Linked DNA regions of Homo sapiens. The protein of the gene in region 2 purifies or fractionates together with the protein of the main gene of each other region. This does not show direct contact. Each region holds a gene or a part of one and is shown on either strand. Other genes may lie near its edges.

Region 1 (3,500 bases), on a different chromosome or scaffold from region 2:
ATCTGTCCACTCTCAGGAGTCTCCTCTCCCCTCAACTTCAGGCACACAATAAGATGATACACTTTGGCCTTTGTCATCACTCAGAACTCTGCTGGCTTCTAGTTCTTCAACTCCAAAATTCCACTCTGACTGCAATCTTCATAGCAAACAAATTACTTTTGGTACTCATCATGCTCTTTAATCTGTCTTGACCTAGCCTCATAATCCAGCAGCCCCCTGTTACTCACTTAATTTCATAATCTTGATCCCATGGTTCAGCTATCTTAATGATTTTGTCACTAATATTGTAGATTCTACCACCAACCCATACCTGCTGAACAATCACCAACTCTGGATGTGGCCCATCATTTCTTTTTTTTTTTTTGAGACAGGGTCTCACTCTATCACCCAAGCTGGAGTGCAGTGGTGCAATCTCAGCTCACTGCAACCTCCGCCTCCCAGGCTCAAGCAATCCTCCCACCTCAGCCTCCCAAGTAGCTGGAACTATAGGCTTGCGCCACCATGCCCAGCTAATTTTTGTATTTTTGGTAGAGGTGGGGTTTCATCACGTTCCCACACAGGTCTTGAAGCGGCCTCAAATGATCTGCCCACTTCAGCCTCCCAAAGTGGTGGGATTACAGGTGTGAGCCACTGCACCTGGACCCATCATTTCCTTTTCTTGCTCTATAACTACTAAGCATAATGCTAAAAATAGTAAAATAAACTAAGAAAGTACATAATTTCCAAATTCTTTAATGAGTATGGATTACTTTTACAACTAAAATAATAATGATAATAATAATAGAAAAAAGAATTTAAAATATTGATTAGAGAAAGCTCTGGGCATTAAAGTTAGACTAGTATCTAAGTAACTAATACTACATACATTTCTAAGCACACGTATAAATTACTACCCGGATCATTAGAAATAAATCAAGAAGTTTACGGTCTATTCAATATATATTTTCAAACACTAAAGTCTAAGCATGAAAATCCAATCCAAAGTCCTATTTTAGTCAATGGTGTTAATATCGTTAAAAGATTAAATGTGTATAATTTGTCTCGAGAAGGAATCGATTTACCTGGAGTTTGTACTACAGCATGCAAATTCTTTTCTTGAAGTTGTTGAATTCTTTCATTCTTAGCTTTGCTCTCTTTCTCCAACAGTTTGAGTTTATGAGCATATTGGTTATTCAGAAATTTCAGATCAGCTGTTTCACGTGCACATTTCTTCAATGAAGTTTTCAACTCTTAAAATGAAAAAGATTCAAAGACCGTTTTAAAGATCAAGAAATCCAATGAAGTTTTTCCATTTCACAAAATACAAAAAGTCATATCAATTTAAAAGTCTCCACCTGCTTCTTATGCATGCTTTAGTTGACACTTATTCCTTCTTCTACTATTATTAACAAAACTGCAAATAACTCACTAAGCACAAAAGAGAATCTTCATTTTTCAGCTACTGTATTAGCCTAACGTACATCATAGCTTTTGATCCAGTAAATTGGGTCTGAAGCTAAAGGATTATGAATTCATACCATGGATTAGATAAAGTTTTCTACTGAATATAAGAATAATTCATACAAAGATAACCATATAATTATCTTTTCCCTAGTACCTTTGAAATCATCCTATTCTACTTGACAGCTCAAAGACTGACTATAAAACAGTCAGCATGATACATGGTTTTCACCTTATTTACTACTTTTATTTTCAGTAAGGGAAAAACAAAAGTTGTTTCAAGAACATTTCTTCAAATCCAGCATTTAATATTCCCTATGGCAATTTTAATTCTAAAATTTTAATTAAATTTTTAATTCTAAAAATTTAATCCACATATAGTGATTATCATAGCTATATAATGCACATTTATTTTCCTTCTCAGGAACTCTTCAACATACCCTATAGTATTTCAGGGGCTATTAGCAGAAGGAGTACCATATTTTCTTTTCTTTTCTTTTTTTTTGAAACAAGTTCTCACTATGTTGCCTAGGCTGGTCTCAAACTCCTGGGCTCAAGCAATCCTCCCACCTTAAACTCCCGAGTAGCTGGGACTATAGGCACACACCATCCAGCTGTAGGACTACTATATTTTCTAATCAATAGTTTTAAAATTAGACGTTAGCTTTTCCTTCTAAAATAAAAAGGACAAAGACATTGCATTTTAAAAATTATCAAATTTTCACTTACCTTTAACGTGTTGGTCTGAATGTTCTCTCAGTTTCATTAACTCTAGGTATAATTCATTATTTTCTCTACTCAATCTTGCATTTTCAAGTTTATAGGGTTCCAAAACAAAATCAAAATTGGCACTTTCTTTTTCAGCTTTCACAGCAGATAATTTTGATTGCCGAAGGCTCTCAGTTGTATGAACTAAGTCGCTAAAAGAACAGAAAATTTAAATACCAGGAAATATTTCATTAACTTTCTAATAACTAAAAACATATTTCTAAAGAGGCTTAAAATACAGTCATGCACCACATGATGACATTTTGGTCAACGACAGACCACATATAGGAAGGAGAGTAGTCCTGTAAGATTTATAATGGGGGCAGCTGAAAAATTCCTATTGCCTCATGAGATCTGGCCATTGTAACACTGTAGCACAACACAATACCTTTTCTATGTTTAGATATGTTCAGATATACAAATAGGCACCACTGTGTTAACAATTACCTACAGTATTCAGTATAGTAACATGCTATACAGGTTTGTAGCCTAGGAGCCATAGGATACAGACCATATAGCCTAGGTTTGTGGTAGGCGACACCATCTAGGTTTGTGTAAGCACACCCTATGATGTTGGTACAACGAAAAAATCACCTAATGATGACATGTTTCTCAGAACGTATCCCTGTCATGAAACTATCCATGACTGTATTTGAAGACCAGTGAAGCAGACATAGAACTTAAGGGGGGGAAAAAAAAAGAACTTAAGGGAAAAGTGTCTCTCAATTATATCAGAAACCCAAAAAACTGTAATTCCATTCACAGAGAAAACCCCCAGAAATGTTGACTTTGAACAGTACAGCGTGAGTGGTGGCCTTTAGAGTTCTGCCGTGTGGAAGGCCTGGATTGAGGACAGGGAAAAAACAGATAAGCTTCATGATTGAAAGCCTTTCCGGAAAGCTACCCTTTTCTTTACCAAAGCATGAAGTTCAATCAGAAATGAGGTAAGTGGTTAGGGATCATAAAGGTTGAAAACTGTATTTTTGTCTTTACCTGAAAAGTTTTTCTACCAAAGGTAAACACTCCACTGTCAGAGTCTGGCGGTATCCCAGCTGATCCAGCCTTTTCCTAATATTAATATACTTTCTCTCTACAGCTGTAGTCATCTCGTCTTCTAAAACAAGTTTTATTCACTTCCAAAAATTAAAGTCCTGAGAGAAAAGAATGAAACATCATTATCTTATTATAGCTATGATTGTTGTTTCACAATAAGAAGAAAAAATTATTTTAATATGAAGCAATTATTTTTTGTTTTTCTTCAGGTAGGTAGCCTTCTGGAAAATTCAGATTTA
Region 2 (3,500 bases):
ACCCCAGAGGACTTTACCCACGGTGGTGGGGCTTACCAAAATTAAGATTCTTTTGGTTTTTTTTGGCAGAGTTTCGCTCTTATTGCCCAGGCTGGAGTATAGTGACGCAATCTCAGCTCACCACAACCTCCGCCTCCCGGGTTCAAATAATTCTCCTACCTCAGCCTCCTGAGTAGCTGGGATTACCGGCATGCGCTACCACCTCTGGCTAATTTTTTTGTTTTTTAGTAGAGATGAGGTTTCTCCATGTTGGTCAGGCTGGTCTTGAACTCCCGACCTCAGGTTATCCGTCCGCCTCGGCCTCCCAAAGTGCTGGGATTACAGACCATAGTGCCCAGCCCGAAATTCAGATTCTAATCACTGGGATGGACAATTCCCCTCTGACTAGGGCTAGTCTAAATACTCCCTCTGTGGGTGCTGGCTGAATTCTGTCCTATGCTGCTTTCCACTGTGACAGGGCAGCACTGAGTTTCAATGCAAAATCCCACAGTCATTTCTCTCTCTCTCCCCCGAGCACACAGATTCTTTCTCCACCCCACACTGCATTGTGGGGGAATGTCAGGGGTGTTGGAGGGGCAGTTCAAGACTATCTTCCTTATCTTTTTTGGTGTCTTTTTCCTTGATAGGATGTCAAAACTGGGTACTGTGATCGCTTACCTAATTTTTGGTTCTTATGAAGGTGCTTTCTTGTGTGGATAGTTGTTCAATTTGGTGCTCCTTGTTGGGGATGATCACTGGAAGGTTCTGTTTGGCCACCATGCTCTGTCTCTTCTCCCCTGCCATCTCCTTTTTTTACTTAGGGGTTTAGAATGTCTAACTGACCAATATGTACAGTCAGGTCTCATTCTGAATTCACCTACTTAATGACCTTCCAAGCTGACTAGGCCCAGCGCTTAGTCCAGCCTCCATGACGGTCCCTCCACATCCTAATTAGCCTCCCTCCAGTTCATTTCACACAAAGCTGCTGTGTTCACCTTTCTGAACTATAAATCTGCCCAGTACTCTACCCTACTTAAAATTCCGTATAGACTGCCCATTTGCCCTGAGAATTAAAAGCCAAAGTCCTAAACGTAGCTTTTTAAAACTTTTTTTTTTTTTTTTTTAATTTTTAGATGGAGTCTTGCTCTGTCACCCAGGCTGGAGTGCAGTGGTGTGATCTTGGCTCACTGCAACCTCCGCCTCCTGGGTTCAAGCAATTCTCATATGTCAGCCTCCCAAGTAGCTGGGATTTACACGTGTGCCATCACGCCTGGCTAATTTTTTTTTTTTATCTTTAGTAGAGACGGAGTTTCACCATGTTGGCCAGTCTGGTCTTAAACTCCTGACCTCAAGTGATCCACCTGCCTTGGCTTCCCAAAGTGCTAGGATGATAGGTGTTAGCCACTGCACGCAGCCCTGAACATAGCTTTTAAGTTCCTTTATTGTCATATTCCTTTTGACGAGTCTATCATTTTCTGACTCACTTGTACATGTGTGTCTCACCCTTGGTCCAGCCATTGGTGCTTTTCTTTACTTCTTTATTTTTGTTATTTTATTTTATTTTATTATTATTTTTTAAATGAGACAGGGTATCACTATGTTGCCCAGGCTGGTCTTGAACTCCTGAGCTTAAGCAGTCTGCTTGTCTCAGCCTCCCAAAGGGCTGGAATTACAGTGATGAGCTACTGTGCCCAGCTCATTGGTGCTATCTTTTTTTTTTTTTTTGAGACGGAGTCTCGCTCTGTCACCCAGGCTGGAGTGCAGTGGCGTGATCTTGGCTCACTGCAGCTCCACTTCCCAGGTTCACACCATTCTCCTACCTCAGCCTCCCGAGTAGCAGGGACTATAGGCGCCTGCCACCATGCCTGGCTAATTTTTGTATTTTTAGTAGAGATGGGGTTTCAGCGTGTGAGCCAAGATGGTCTCGATCTCCTGACCTCGTGATCCGCCTGCCTTGGCCTCCCAAAGTGCTGGGATTACAGGCGTGAGCCACCGTGCCCGGCCCCCATTGGTGCTATTGTTTTATGTGATAGAGCCAGCTTCTCCCTTTTCTTTGGATTTTTAAACATACTCTTCCTTTTACTTAGACTATTCTCCATCCCAACACCTTTCCTAAACTTCTTTCACACCTTAGACTAGCTGACACTTTACTGAGAAACCTTTCTTTTTTATAGGTTGCTTTTTCTATAGACTCTCTTAGCATTTACTCATTTTATTGTGAAGTGTCTGATCTTATTTAAATGACAAGTATAAGAGGATAGAAACTATTTCATATTTTTCTCACCCAGCAGGCACAATTTCTGACATGTGGTAAGCACTCAGTAAATATTGAACTTTAGAGGCTAGGACATTTGAGTGCTTTGGTGACTGTGGTTGTGCTATATAGGTACTCTGTTATTGTTAGTTTATAGTAAAAGCATTACTCTTAAAGTATGAAAAAAGCCTTATTCAGAACATTTCATGCGTATAGTTAATATTACGTAGCTTGTGCTCATGGCAAAAATGTATTACTAAAGTTATTTAAGATATTTAAGTATAATTGTTTCCTTTATTTAGTTACAGCCAAGTTCTACTTCTGAATCTATGGATCAACTACTAAACAAAAATAGAGAGGGAGAAAAATCAAGAGATTTGATCAAAGACAAAATTGAACCAAGTGCTAAGGATTCTTTCATTGAAAATAGCAGCAGCAACTGTACCAGTGGCAGCAGCAAGCCGAATAGCCCCAGCATTTCCCCTTCAATACTTAGTAACACGGAGCACAAGAGGGGACCTGAGGTCACTTCCCAAGGGGTTCAGACTTCCAGCCCAGCATGTAAACAAGAGAAAGACGATAAGGAAGAGAAGAAAGACGCAGCTGAGTGAGTAAACCTGGAACTTAGACCATCCTGTTACTCAATTAACTTTTTTTTTTTTAAAGGCATTTAGGTCCTTCCAACTGTGAAGAATCCATCTGGACTTTTAGACTACTTTATACATTGCCCTTAGTTTACAAACAGCTAGTCCAAACAAATGACATCTTAAGTAAATGAGGTTATTGCACCCTGTGCTACTCTTCTGTTCTTCCCCTTTTTTGTACCCCAGGGCTAGAAAAACAAGGCATAAATTAAGAAAAGTTTTTCTGTAAATGAACAGGAGTTGAAAAATTATCAATTCAGGGGACCTATCTTTACTGGATTCCACTCATTAGTCACCCTCACTGTGCTGCTAGGTTGAAAAACTGCCACTGTCAAGGAGAGAAGCATGCGGTGCTTCTACTTGGAATTCAAAATATTTTTCATCAGAAACTGTGTTTTAGTTAATGTTTAGATTTGTTAAGATAGACTTAATTCTGCACATTCAGTATATTAATTAAATGGACTTTTAGGGGCTAACCTCAGAACTTAACTACCATTGACTTAGGTGTTTGGGTACCAAACAATCCAGTTAAAGCTGAAGTTTTGGAATGCAGCTTATTGATAAATTGGGGACTGCTTATTCTTGATTTGAGGCAATTTTTTTTTACAGCCATGACTTTTTCC

What was found. Proteins that work in one complex are often made in the same cells at the same time.
Region 1: the proteins of ATXN2 (region 2) and CEP135 purify together in Homo sapiens (co-immunoprecipitation; one large-scale study listed by IntAct). This does not show direct contact.

The regions. Positions count from the first base shown.
Region 1 is NC_000004.12:55,951,945-55,955,444, reverse strand, and holds part of CEP135 (centrosomal protein of 135 kDa), read right to left. Parts: intron 3,360-3,500; 5' UTR 3,315-3,359; coding exon 3,202-3,314; intron 3,055-3,201; exon of another isoform or gene 2,974-3,054; intron 2,361-2,973; coding exon 2,170-2,360; intron 1,230-2,169; coding exon 1,062-1,229; intron 1-1,061. UniProt on the Homo sapiens protein: Centrosomal microtubule-binding protein involved in centriole biogenesis. Acts as a scaffolding protein during early centriole biogenesis.
Region 2 is NC_000012.12:111,487,816-111,491,315, reverse strand, and holds part of ATXN2 (ataxin-2), read left to right. Parts: intron 1-2,535; coding exon 2,536-2,840; intron 2,841-3,500. UniProt on the Homo sapiens protein: Involved in EGFR trafficking, acting as negative regulator of endocytic EGFR internalization at the plasma membrane.